2 separate regions of the Homo sapiens genome follow, and region 2 is linked to region 1. A link means that fine-mapping ties the variant in region 1 to the expression of a gene that starts in the linked region. Tissue or cell type: whole blood. Region 1 holds a variant in brackets; the other region holds the start of a gene. All regions are shown on one strand. Distances are between the middles of the regions.

Evidence for each region. PIP is the estimated chance that this variant, and not a neighbour inherited with it, causes the effect.
Region 2: SLC35F5 starts here. The variant in region 1 is fine-mapped to the expression of SLC35F5 in whole blood (TOPMed, PIP above 0.99). The same link has a PIP of 0.9 or more in atrial appendage.

The regions. Positions count from the first base shown.
Region 1 is chr2:113,807,949-113,810,632 of GRCh38, reverse strand. All of the region lies in intron 2 of LOC105373570 (a long non-coding RNA gene), which reads left to right. Among named protein-coding and RNA genes, the nearest start is that of SLC35F5, 53 kb to the right of the region's middle. The variant A/G (reference allele first, on the strand shown) is at 1,523.
Region 2 is chr2:113,755,506-113,758,189 of GRCh38, reverse strand. SLC35F5 (solute carrier family 35 member F5) reads left to right here and starts at 1,548. Exons shown (of 16, transcript NM_025181.5): 1 at 1,548-1,820; 2 at 2,646-2,684. The coding sequence starts at 1,781. RefSeq lists enhancers at 773-822, 1,003-1,182 and a silencer at 1,393-1,622.

The DNA of each region.
Region 1 (2,684 bases):
CTCTGTCTCAGAAAAAAAAAAAAAAAAAAAAAAAAAAGAATAAAGAAATGGATACTCTCTACATAACTTTTAACAGTTACATAGCATTGGTTTAGGGATATACTATAATTTAGTAAATAAATTTGTCTCTTTGTATATCTAGGTTGTTTTCTATTTTTCACTATTATAATCACTTCTACAATGAACATCCATGTAGCTAAATCTTTGGCTCATATTTACTCATGTGCTTAAGTAAATCACTAGAAATAGAATCACTGGTTTAACAGTGAAGTATACATTTTCAAGGCTCTTGCTATAGGGTGGTAGTCTGCAAAGTTGAACACCATTAACTCCTCTCTTCCCTGTACAAGCAAGCCACTCATCCCATCAAAAGGTGATGTCACTCCCTTATCCCTGGATGACTTGCCTGTAGAATATGGTGGAAGTAGGGCCACCAAATAAAATACCCAGTTATAATATTGTGATATAATAAGATATATATATTTGGTCTTCATCCCCAGTTTCTGGCACATAGCTCTTAAAACCTTTGGAAATTTCTTATAGAGGAAAAGGAGCGTCTTTTGTAAGGGAAAAGACTTTTGGAAAGCCCTAGAATGAGGAGCTGTTTGTCAAGGGAACTAACCAGGTGATTGAGGCTTGAACAAGTTGGACCCTTCAGCTCATCCTCTGACCTGCAAAGAAGGGAGAGGGGCTAGAGATTGAGTTCAATCACCAACGGCCAATGATTTCATTAATTATGCTATGGCAATGTGATGGACCTCCATGAGAACCCTATGTGGCAGGGTTTTGGAGAGCTTTCAGGTTGATGAACACATGGAGGTGCTAGGAGAGTGGTAACCCAGAGAGGACATAGAAGCTGCATACCCCACCTCTATACCTTGTCCCATGCATCTGTCAACTGAAGAATGATGAGGTTCATAAATTTGTAAAGGAGAGCTTTATTCTTTATAAAGGGTTGCAGCCTGAGGGTGGCTATTCTGGCAGGCTGAGAAATGTAGCCTCTGGGCAGAAGCTGGAAACAGACATTTTGAGGGAGTGGCAAAAGGAACATGAATTTATGCTGAGCAGGGTGGCTGAATATACATATTTAATAAGTTATAGGAGGAGACATGAATATTTATGAAAGGAGAAATGTGTGCATGCACAATTGAGCTTCATGTCCCTTCATGGGATCCCTGTTCAAAAAAATGGCCTCATTAGCATAATCTGAGGATGGAGTTTTCAGCCCTCTTATGTCAAAAGGTGAAGCACGGGACATGAAAACCCTTATTGTGCATTCTCCATAGACTGGCCAGAACCACTCCGTTGTCAGTGGTGTCTTATCAGGAAGGAAGGCTGGTCAGTTGCTTTGTCAAAATCCAAAAAGGGAGGAGCAGTGTCAGATGGTTGGTTGAAATCAGTGGTGCAAAGAGTCTTTTGAAAGGGTTGGTTTCTGTTTAACCCTTAGGGAAGAAAGCCTAACGGCAGCTAGCAAGGAAGGGGGTATAATGAGATGTGTCCTATCTCCCATCGAGTCATCGCT[A/G]GAAACTCAATTTTCAAGGTTTCTTGGGGGTACTCTTGGCCAAGAGGGGGTCCATTTTGTTGGTTGGAGGGATTAGGATTTTATTTTATTTCTCACATCTCTTCCATCTGTTTATATATATATCCTTTAAAATTTCTTTTGTAATAAATCAGGAATAGTAAATAAGCTTTCCCTAGGTTTGTGAACCATTCTAGCAAATTATTGTAACTGCCCAATGGGTGCACAGATAAAATCAACTCACTGAGACTTCAGCATTGCAGTAGGTGGAGTTATTACTCAAATCAGTCTCCTCAAAGGCTCAGAGTTAGGGTTTTTCAAGGATAGTTTGGTGTTGGGGGCTAGGGAGTGGGGAATGTTGATTGGCTGAAGATAAGGTGATATGGGTGTGGCCTTTGGGTGAGGGCCATGGACCCCATGGTTAGGGTGGATAAGAAATGCAAAAGTCTGCTGGGTGCAGTGGTTCATGCCTGTAATTCCAGCACTTTGGGAGGCCGAGGCAGGCGGATTACTTGAAGTCAGGAGTTCAAGACTAGACTGGCCAACATGGTGAAACCTAGTCTTTACTAAAAATACAAAAATTAGCCGGGCGTGGTGGCAGGCAACTGTAATCCCAGCTACCTGGGAGGCTGAGGCAGGAGAATTGCTTGAACCCAGGATGCGGAGGTTGCAGTGAGCTGAGATCGTGCCACTGCACTCCAGCCTAGTCAACGGAGTGAGACCCCATCTCAAAAAACAAACAAAAAAACAAACAAACAAAAAAAGAAATGCCAAAGTCTGAAAAGACATCTCAAAAACCAATCTTAGGATCTACAATACAATACAATAGTGATGTTATCTACAGCAATAATTGGGGAGGTTACAAATCTTGTGACCTATGGAGCAATGGCTGGTTATTGTTTATGCTTACATCTTAGCAGAATTCAGGCCTCTCTCATAACCATAACCTTGTGGACTTTCATTAGTTTTACAAAGGGGGTTTAGTTTTGGGAAAGGCTATTATCATCTTTAAGGTTAAGCTATAAACTAAATTCCTCCTAAAGTTATCTTGGCCTACACCCAGGAATAACCAAGTACAGTTTGGAGGTTAGAAGCTAGCTGAAGCACACTATGTCAGATTGCTCTTACTCTCATAATTTTGCAAAGGTGGTTTCATTATTGAACC
Region 2 (2,684 bases), 52 kb after region 1:
CTGCAAGCTCCGCCTCCCGGGTTCACGCCATTCTCCTGCCTCAGCCTCCCGAGTAGCTGGGACTACAGGCGCCCGCCACCACCCCCGCCTAATTTTTTGCATTTTTTTAATAGAGACGGGGTTTCACCGTGTTAGCCAGGATGGTCTCCATCTCCTGACCTCGTGATCCACCTGCCTCGGCCTCCCAAAGTGCTGGGATTACAGGCATGAGCCACCGCGACCGGCCTGGTTGGTTTTTTTTTTTACTCTGCACAATAGGTTTCTGAATGACTTATTAGAGGTGTTTGATGCTGATAGTTTGAAACTGATTCGATCAATTAAAAAATGTTCATTGGTATTGTTTTATTAGTTGCTAGAATATGCATTCAACTTCACTGAAACGAGACTTAAAAGGTAAGAGGTACACTACATCGCGACTATAGGAGTAAGAAAATTTAATTTCTTCACGCCATCTGACCAAGATGTTAAATTACTGAACCCTTTAGTCTTGTTTTTGTTTTGTAGATAGAAATCAAGATGCTGGACAAACCTTTCTCATGGAATAGTCAAAATATTTAAGGAACAAATCTATACAGTTTAATAACTGCCAACATTTGGCAGGGCTCATGCCTGTAATTCCAGCACTTCGGGAGGTCGAGGCGGGCGGATCACTTAAGACTAGGAGTACGAGACCAGCCTGGCCAACATGGCGAAACCCTGTCTCTACTAAAAAATATAAAAATTAGCCGGGCATTGGTGGCTTGCGCCTGTAGTCCCGGCTACACTGGAAGCTGAGGCTGGAGAATCGCTTGAGCCCGGGAAGCAGAGGTTGCAGTGAGCTGTGATTGTGCCACTGCACTGCAGCCTGGGTGGCAGAGAAAGACCCTGTCTCAAAACAAACGAACGAACAAAAAATTGCTGACGTCTGTGAGGTTCTTATTATGTGCCATGAATTGATCTACGTCCTTCACATATGTAAACTCATGCAATCCTAGCATACACACAAAAAACCAATGTGGCAGGTACTATCATTATCGTAGACAAGGAAACCGAGGACCAGAGAAGTTGAAGTAGCTTGGCCTAGGATGTAGGTTGTAACTCCTAGAGCTGAGATCTTGTTTATATACAAAAGGTTTCAAGAATCAAAAGTACTCTAAGCCACTTTGCGTTTCGGCTGTCATCGAGAAAGGGATATCCGAAGTTTCAGGTTCGCAGTTTGTGAAACGGAACGGCCAGCTTTCGTTCTAAGGCGGGCGGAGGTTTAGCCACTCCCTCGTCCTTTGCTCTGCCCCAGACACCCACGCTCGCTTTCCTCTTCTTCCTCCACCTCGCCCTACTTCCCTTCTTCCTATCTTCTCTCTTCTTTCGCCTCGCCGCCGCGAGCCCTCGCTCGGCGACCAGAGCCTCGCATTACTTCCCCTAGCTCCGCCAAGCCTCGCTGCATACGCGACCGCGCGCAGTCCGCCGTCGCGCCCCTATGACGTCACCCGCGCGCCACCGCTTCCGGGCTGGGGACTGGGGGCGGGGCCGCGCGGAGGGCAAGCCGGGGGCGGGGCCGGGGCCAGAGCAGATCTCCGGGCCTCCGCGGCCATAGCTGACTGTGCCGTCCCTTCCCCTCACCCGCTCCACGCCCTCCTGGGCCGAGTGGAGTTGGGTGGTGTCGGGAGCCTCTCCCTGAGGGGCACCGCGTCTTCAGGAGCTGGGCCTCCAGTGCGGCGCGATGTCAGGCGCGGTGACAGCTCTGTGAGTCCGAGGCCGCGGCCGTGGCGCTGGGCGGCTGCGGGGCCTGACCGGTCCGCTCATGGTGCCGCCACGACGCCATCGCGGGGCAGGAAGGCCAGGTAGGCAGGCAGGGAAGGGCCCCGACATCACCGGAGCCCAAACCGGGACGGAGTGCCCACCAGCAGCACCACCTCCTGCCCTCGGTGGCAGCAGGAGCGCCTTGACCGAAACCGTGAAGGTCTCTAGGGGCGGAGGGAGCGGGAGCTGACAGGGGCGCCGGAGCCCTGCGCCCACCGCTGGCAATTGAGGAAGCCGTGCGTGCGCCCTCGCCTCGGCTCCCCGGGGAGGCGTCGCTGCCTTAACTGTCTTCCCCGCTCCAAAACAGAAGGATGATTTCTTTTCCCAGCTGTTTCTTTTAAAATGACTGGATGTTTTGATAGAGGTGGGTGGAGGAGCATGGAGAATCCTTTTCTTTTACCACTTGAAGAGATTGGAAAGGTGCCTTCAAGACCCACAGCAAATCACTTACTCTCCGATAACCAAATTCCACTCCAGCAGATCAGGGACAGAAAAGACACTTTTAGAAACAGTGTCTAGACGCTGTCCCCAGGGATGGATTCCTCTGGATGGAGAGGTGAATGGAGTTCCGTATTTGTGAAACTCAGAGAAGCTATTTTCTGGTAGTTAACTGTTCTTAAATGTGCCGTATGTTGTATATTACTCCCCCTCCCTGCCCGCCCCGTATCGCGTATCTCTCTAAGTATAATCTGAAGCGTGCAGTGGATACCATGAAAGTACTGAGAAAGGTGGCAAGTATGTTTAACACATTTTGGTCCTTTTCATTGATTTGCTTTGAGTTTGAAGATGAAGAGTAAAAAACGATGTGATGAATCTTACCTTGAGTTATTCACGTTTTCATAGCATAATTTCATGGTTGTTTTTAGGGGTGCTGAGTTCTTCACCTCCTTTTAGACTGAGATCTG